2 separate regions of the Homo sapiens genome follow, and region 2 is linked to region 1. A link means that fine-mapping ties the variant in region 1 to the expression of a gene that starts in the linked region. Tissue or cell type: whole blood. Region 1 holds a variant in brackets; the other region holds the start of a gene. All regions are shown on one strand. Distances are between the middles of the regions.

Region 1 (2,722 bases):
CCACCTCGGCCTCCCAAAGTGCTGGGATTACAGGCGTGAGCCACCGCGCCTGGACTGACCAGTGCTTTTGTCTTCCTCAGAGTTCACTGTCTCCCTCCTCTCCCTAGCCCTTCCAGGGACATTCCCCCTTTTCTCCCCAACTCAAGTTTGTCTCCCCTACCCTCCATTCTTCTTTGTCATCTTTCCGTTTCCCTTTAAGTATTGAGTGAGAAAGAATCTCTTTCTTTTTGTTGTTTGTTGTTGGAGACTCTGGGGAATTCTAATGTTTATTCTCTGCTTCTTCCACCAGGGCAGCCAGGGCCAAATCCATATCCCCCCAATATTGGGTGCCCTGGAGGTTCCAATCCTGCCCACCCACCACCTATTAATCCACCCTTTCCCCCAGGCCCCTGTCCTCCTCCCCCAGGAGCTCCCCATGGCAATCCAGCTTTCCCCCCAGGTGGGCCCCCTCATCCTGTGCCACAGCCAGGGTATCCAGGATGCCAACCGTTGGGTCCCTACCCTCCTCCATACCCACCGCCTGCCCCTGGAATCCCTCCTGTGAATCCCTTGGCTCCTGGCATGGTTGGACCAGCAGTGATAGTAGACAAGAAGATGCAGAAGAAAATGAAGAAAGCTCATAAAAAGATGCACAAGCACCAAAAGCACCACAAGTACCACAAGCATGGCAAGGTCAGTACCCTCTGGAGACTGGCTAGGGAAGGAGTCCCCCCTCAGAGGGACTAGGTAGGCAGGGGTTGGGTGAGGGGGATTCACATTCTGTGGACGTGAGGGATGACAATTGTGTCGCTCTGGTAGATGATTCTTCCTTTTTATAAAAGATTGCTACTGGGAAGAATCTGATTATCTTGAAAATAAACATCAGGCTTCTCCTATCTGGGGGGAGTTAGGGTGAGCCTTAGAATGGATTTTAGAATCAAAAGCCAAATCTTTTCTGCCCTACTCTCCCAGAACTTTTGCTCCCCTCCCGCCAGGTGCATATTCTAGCAAGTTGGACACGCCCACTGACATTGTCAAAATACCAAAGTCATTCCTTTGACAAAGCAAGGTCTTATAATAATTAACAGAATTAATCTGTCCCTAGTTCCAGAAGTTCCTTCTCTCTTTCATCAGTGTTCTTAGGGCGTTGTGTTAATTACATGGGTCCTTTGCCCTATCATCCAGCAGAAAAAGTGAGGACAAGAGCAGTCAGTGACTAGGCTTCTAACAAAGCCTAGGACTAAGGAGGTTTTTTTTTTTTTTTTTTGAGACGGAGTCCCGCTCTTTAGCCCAGGCCAGATTGCAGTGGCACAATCTCGGCTCACTGCAAGCTCCGCCTCCCAGGTTCACGCCATTCTCCTGCCTCAGCCTCCCGAGTAGCTGGGACTACAGGCGCCCGCCACCGCGCCCGGCTAATTCTTTGTATTTTTAGTAGAGATGGGGTTTCACCGTGTTAGCCA[A/G]GATGGTCTCGATCTCCTGACCTTGTGATCCGCCCGCCTTGGCCTCCCAAAGTGCTGGGATTACAGGCGTGAGCCACTGCACCCAGCCCTAAGGAGGTTTTATACTCAGCTCCAAGGCTAAGTATCTTTGTTTTAGAGGAGTGTTAAAAATTGGTAAGGGTGGCCAGGTGCCATGGCTCATGCCTGTAATCCTAGCACTTGGGAATTATTAGCTGGGTGTGGTGGCGCATGCCTGTAATCCCAGCTACTCAGGAGGCTGAGGCAGGAGAATTGCTTGAACCCGGGAGGCAGAGATGGCAGTGAGCCCAGATCTCACCACTGCACTCCAGCCTCGGTGACAGATAAGACTCCATCTCAAACAAACAAACAAAAAATAGCAAGGATAAAAGCAACTCTGAGGACAACTCTGGAAGGATTAAACCAATCTGCATCTTGATGAGGCCTCCATTTACATTTAACTGCCCAGTATTTATTTGCCTTGTGGATTCTAATTCCTGATTCTGGGTCTTTGATAGAAATCTGAAGAGAAGGCTGTGCGCCGTGGTCCACACCTGTAATCCCAGCACTTTGGGATTCCGGGGCGGGCGGATCACGAGGTCAGGAGTTCAAGACCAGCCTAGCCAACATGGTGAAACCTGTCTACTAAAGATACAAAAAATTAGCTGGGCATGGTGGTGCGTGTCTGTAATCCCAGCTACTCTGGAGGCTAAGGCAGGAGAATCTCTTAAACCCAGGAAGTGGAGGTTGCAGTGAGCTAAGATCATGCCATTGCACTCCAGCCTGGGCAACTGGGTGAAACTCCGTCTAAAAAAAAAAAAAAAAAAGGTCTGAAGAGAACCGAAGAGAATTGAGATTTAGTGGGGAAAAGCGGGAGAAATTACCCTGGAGAGACTGAAAAATGTTTTTATTTAATAACTAGCATTGCTGGGAGTATATGCTTAAGGAACCTTGAATAGAACTCCCAGCCTTTTCTTACACCTTCCCCACTTTTTCCCATTGTGCTTGGGAAAAAGTAGAGATACATGCACATACAACTGCTGTTTCTACTGTCTTTTCTTAGATTTGTAGAATCCAATTTCTTAAAATCATAGGACTTTGCACGCAGCTAATGAATAAGCATTGAAAAGGTAACAGCTGTTTCCTAGCACTATACTATGCTTGTGCCTGTAATTTATTCCTTGCCTAGGCATCGATTCAGGTAAAGAAAGTTGGAAATTTGCTCCAAAGGCAATATGTTAAATTTTTTAAATTCCGTGTGATAATTTAGGATGGTTTAATCCATT
Region 2 (2,500 bases), 340 kb before region 1:
CCCGAGGAGACGCTCAGGTGTTTTTACATCCTCAGACTCAGATGTCCCCTCTCATTCTCCTGCTGGAAGCCTCTGGCCTCACTCCTGACCTGTGTGCCTCTCTCTCCAGTGCCGCTCCTCCCAGGGGCAGCGCCGAGGTCCCTGCTGGTGTGTGGATCGGATGGGCAAGTCCCTGCCAGGGTCTCCAGATGGCAATGGAAGCTCCTCCTGCCCCACTGGGAGTAGCGGCTAAAGCTGGGGGATAGAGGGGCTGCAGGGCCACTGGAAGGAACATGGAGCTGTCATCACTCAACAAAAAACCGAGGCCCTCAATCCACCTTCAGGCCCCGCCCCATGGGCCCCTCACCGCTGGTTGGAAAGAGTGTTGGTGTTGGCTGGGGTGTCAATAAAGCTGTGCTTGGGGTCGCTGGCTTGTGTCTCTGTGTCTGCCTCTCACAATTCTGGAATCCCTGGCCCTCTCTTTACCCCACTACAGCTCACTCACAGCATTTCTCCTTTCCTGTGGATACCTTTAGTCCTTCCTGTGACAGCCAGGCAGAAGCTTCAAGCCATCAAGCCTCACAGAGCTGCCCACCAGGAGTTGGGAGTGGGAAGGGGAGACACTGAGATCATGGCCTTAATCTGAAGTTGTGACCTTGTTTCTAACACTGATCTTTGGACACAAAGGGAGGGGAAGGATTAATAGTTAATCCCAGCAGGAACCCAGCAAAGAGGAACTCTCAAAGCACATACCCTTCTGTTACTTCCTACTAAAAAAAGAAGGAAATTATTACTAATATATGAGCTCATCCCATGGCCCTGAACCATGTGATTTTACCTGGACAACCTCATTTTGAGCTTACGATAACCTTGTGATATAGGGATTTTTACCCCTATTTTTCAGAGGAGGAAACTGGCTTAAAATTTGGGGTCACTTGCCTGAAATTATATAGCTGGTAAATGACAGAGGGAGGTTTGCATCCGGTTCTTCCATATGTGACAATACCTGGTATTCCCTAGGTGCTGAATACGTGTTTGTTTAGTCTCCTTTCTGCCTACATGCTCACCCAAGCAGGTGTCAGGAAGCGGCCCTGTCAGTTCAGGGGCCCTGACACTCAGCCTTTCCTGGAGGGGCCCCAGTTCCGTGAGTAGCACAGTGCCAACCCCATCAGAATATTACCACATGTGTCAATCACACACCTTGTGGTGAAAGCGAGCTGAACGCACTGATACATGAAGACATTTCTGACTCCTCCCTGACCTTCAGCCTGCTGGGAGAGAGACTGGAAGGCCAGCCATGCTAGGTGACAAGCTTCTGAGAGGCAAAGTTCCCCTCCCCAAGATGTACCCAGCCACTATTCCTGTGTGTGTGTGGCGGGGTGGATAGCACCCTTGGAGCTGGGCATCTGGATGGTGGTTGGGGTGTTAGGGGGATGTGGCGATCCCTGCGACAGACAGCAGAGTGAGGTCTGAATCTGAGAAGCTCTGCCTCCAGATCAGATAACCTATCGCACTCCCAGAGGCCCCCTCCTCCTGAAAGGACTTTAGTCTTTGGAGCTGTCACCTGAGCTGAGTGGGACAAGAGCTCTACAGGGCAGGCCACACTGCGAAGGAAGGAGGCAACACGGGCAAGGGCTGCCTGCTGCCCGCTGGAGACCGCACCATGGAGCCAGGCGGGGCCCGTCTGCGTCTGCAGAGGACAGAAGGGCTGGGAGGGGAGCGGGAGCGCCAACCCTGTGGAGATGGTGAGCCGCCCTCGGGGGTGCAGAAGGCACAGGCAAGTGGGGGGGAGGCGGGGAGAGATGCGCTATGGAGAGAAGGCTCCAACTGCCTGATGCCAATCCTTCCTGCTGTCCAGAGAGGCCAAGGAAGGTAGACCCTGGCCTCAGCCCAGAGCCACCCAGCTGGAAGATGGAACAGAAAAGAGCTATGTCAGAGCTGTGGCCTGGCCTTATCCTTCTGACTGTTTAGCCCCAGATAGTGAATGGAGTAGCTTCCCATTCCCTGAGTGCCCTGTTCCCAGTAATGTCACCAGGCCCCCTGCTTGCCTATGGCCTCCTCACCACTGGCAACAGCAACTTCCCCTTCTAGTAGCCCCAACCATGATACTAGATATTGGCTGGTTGGGGTGAGGGCAGCTGCTGAGCACACAAAGCATTTCCTGACCACAGGATGCCTCTGGGTCTGCAGAACCCCAATTCCTCCTGTTGACTGTGCCTTTGATCCCTCCTCACAGGAAACACTGAGACGCACAGAGCCCCGGACTTGGTACAATGGACCCGACACATGGAGGTGAGGGATGTCAGAGGTCAGAGGTCAAGTGGACAGATCCTTGGTAGCAGGAAGCAGGAGTGAGGCTTGGTGATAAAGATGACTTTTTTTTTTTTTTTTTTTTGAAACAAAGTCTCGCTCTGTTGCTCAGGCTGGAGTGCATTGGCACAATCTCGGCTCACTGCAACCTCTGCCTCCCAGGTTCAAGCGAGTAGCTGAACTACAGATGAGTGCCACCAGGTGTGGCTAA

The links. PIP is the estimated chance that this variant, and not a neighbour inherited with it, causes the effect.
Region 2: SOAT2 starts here. The variant in region 1 is fine-mapped to the expression of SOAT2 in whole blood (TOPMed, PIP 0.95).

What each region holds. Positions count from the first base shown.
Region 1 is chr12:53,443,102-53,445,823 of GRCh38, forward strand. PRR13 (proline rich 13) reads left to right here. Exons shown (of 4, transcript NM_018457.4): 3 at 290-672. Among named protein-coding and RNA genes, the nearest start is that of PRR13, 2.7 kb to the left of the region's middle. The variant A/G (reference allele first, on the strand shown) is at 1,440.
Region 2 is chr12:53,101,936-53,104,435 of GRCh38, forward strand. It overlaps SOAT2 (sterol O-acyltransferase 2), which reads left to right and starts at 1,551. Exons shown (of 15, transcript NM_003578.4): 1 at 1,551-1,724; 2 at 2,216-2,271. The coding sequence starts at 1,643. It overlaps IGFBP6 (insulin like growth factor binding protein 6), which reads left to right. Exons shown (of 4, transcript NM_002178.3): 4 at 110-405. The coding sequence ends at 232. RefSeq lists an enhancer at 1,133-1,661.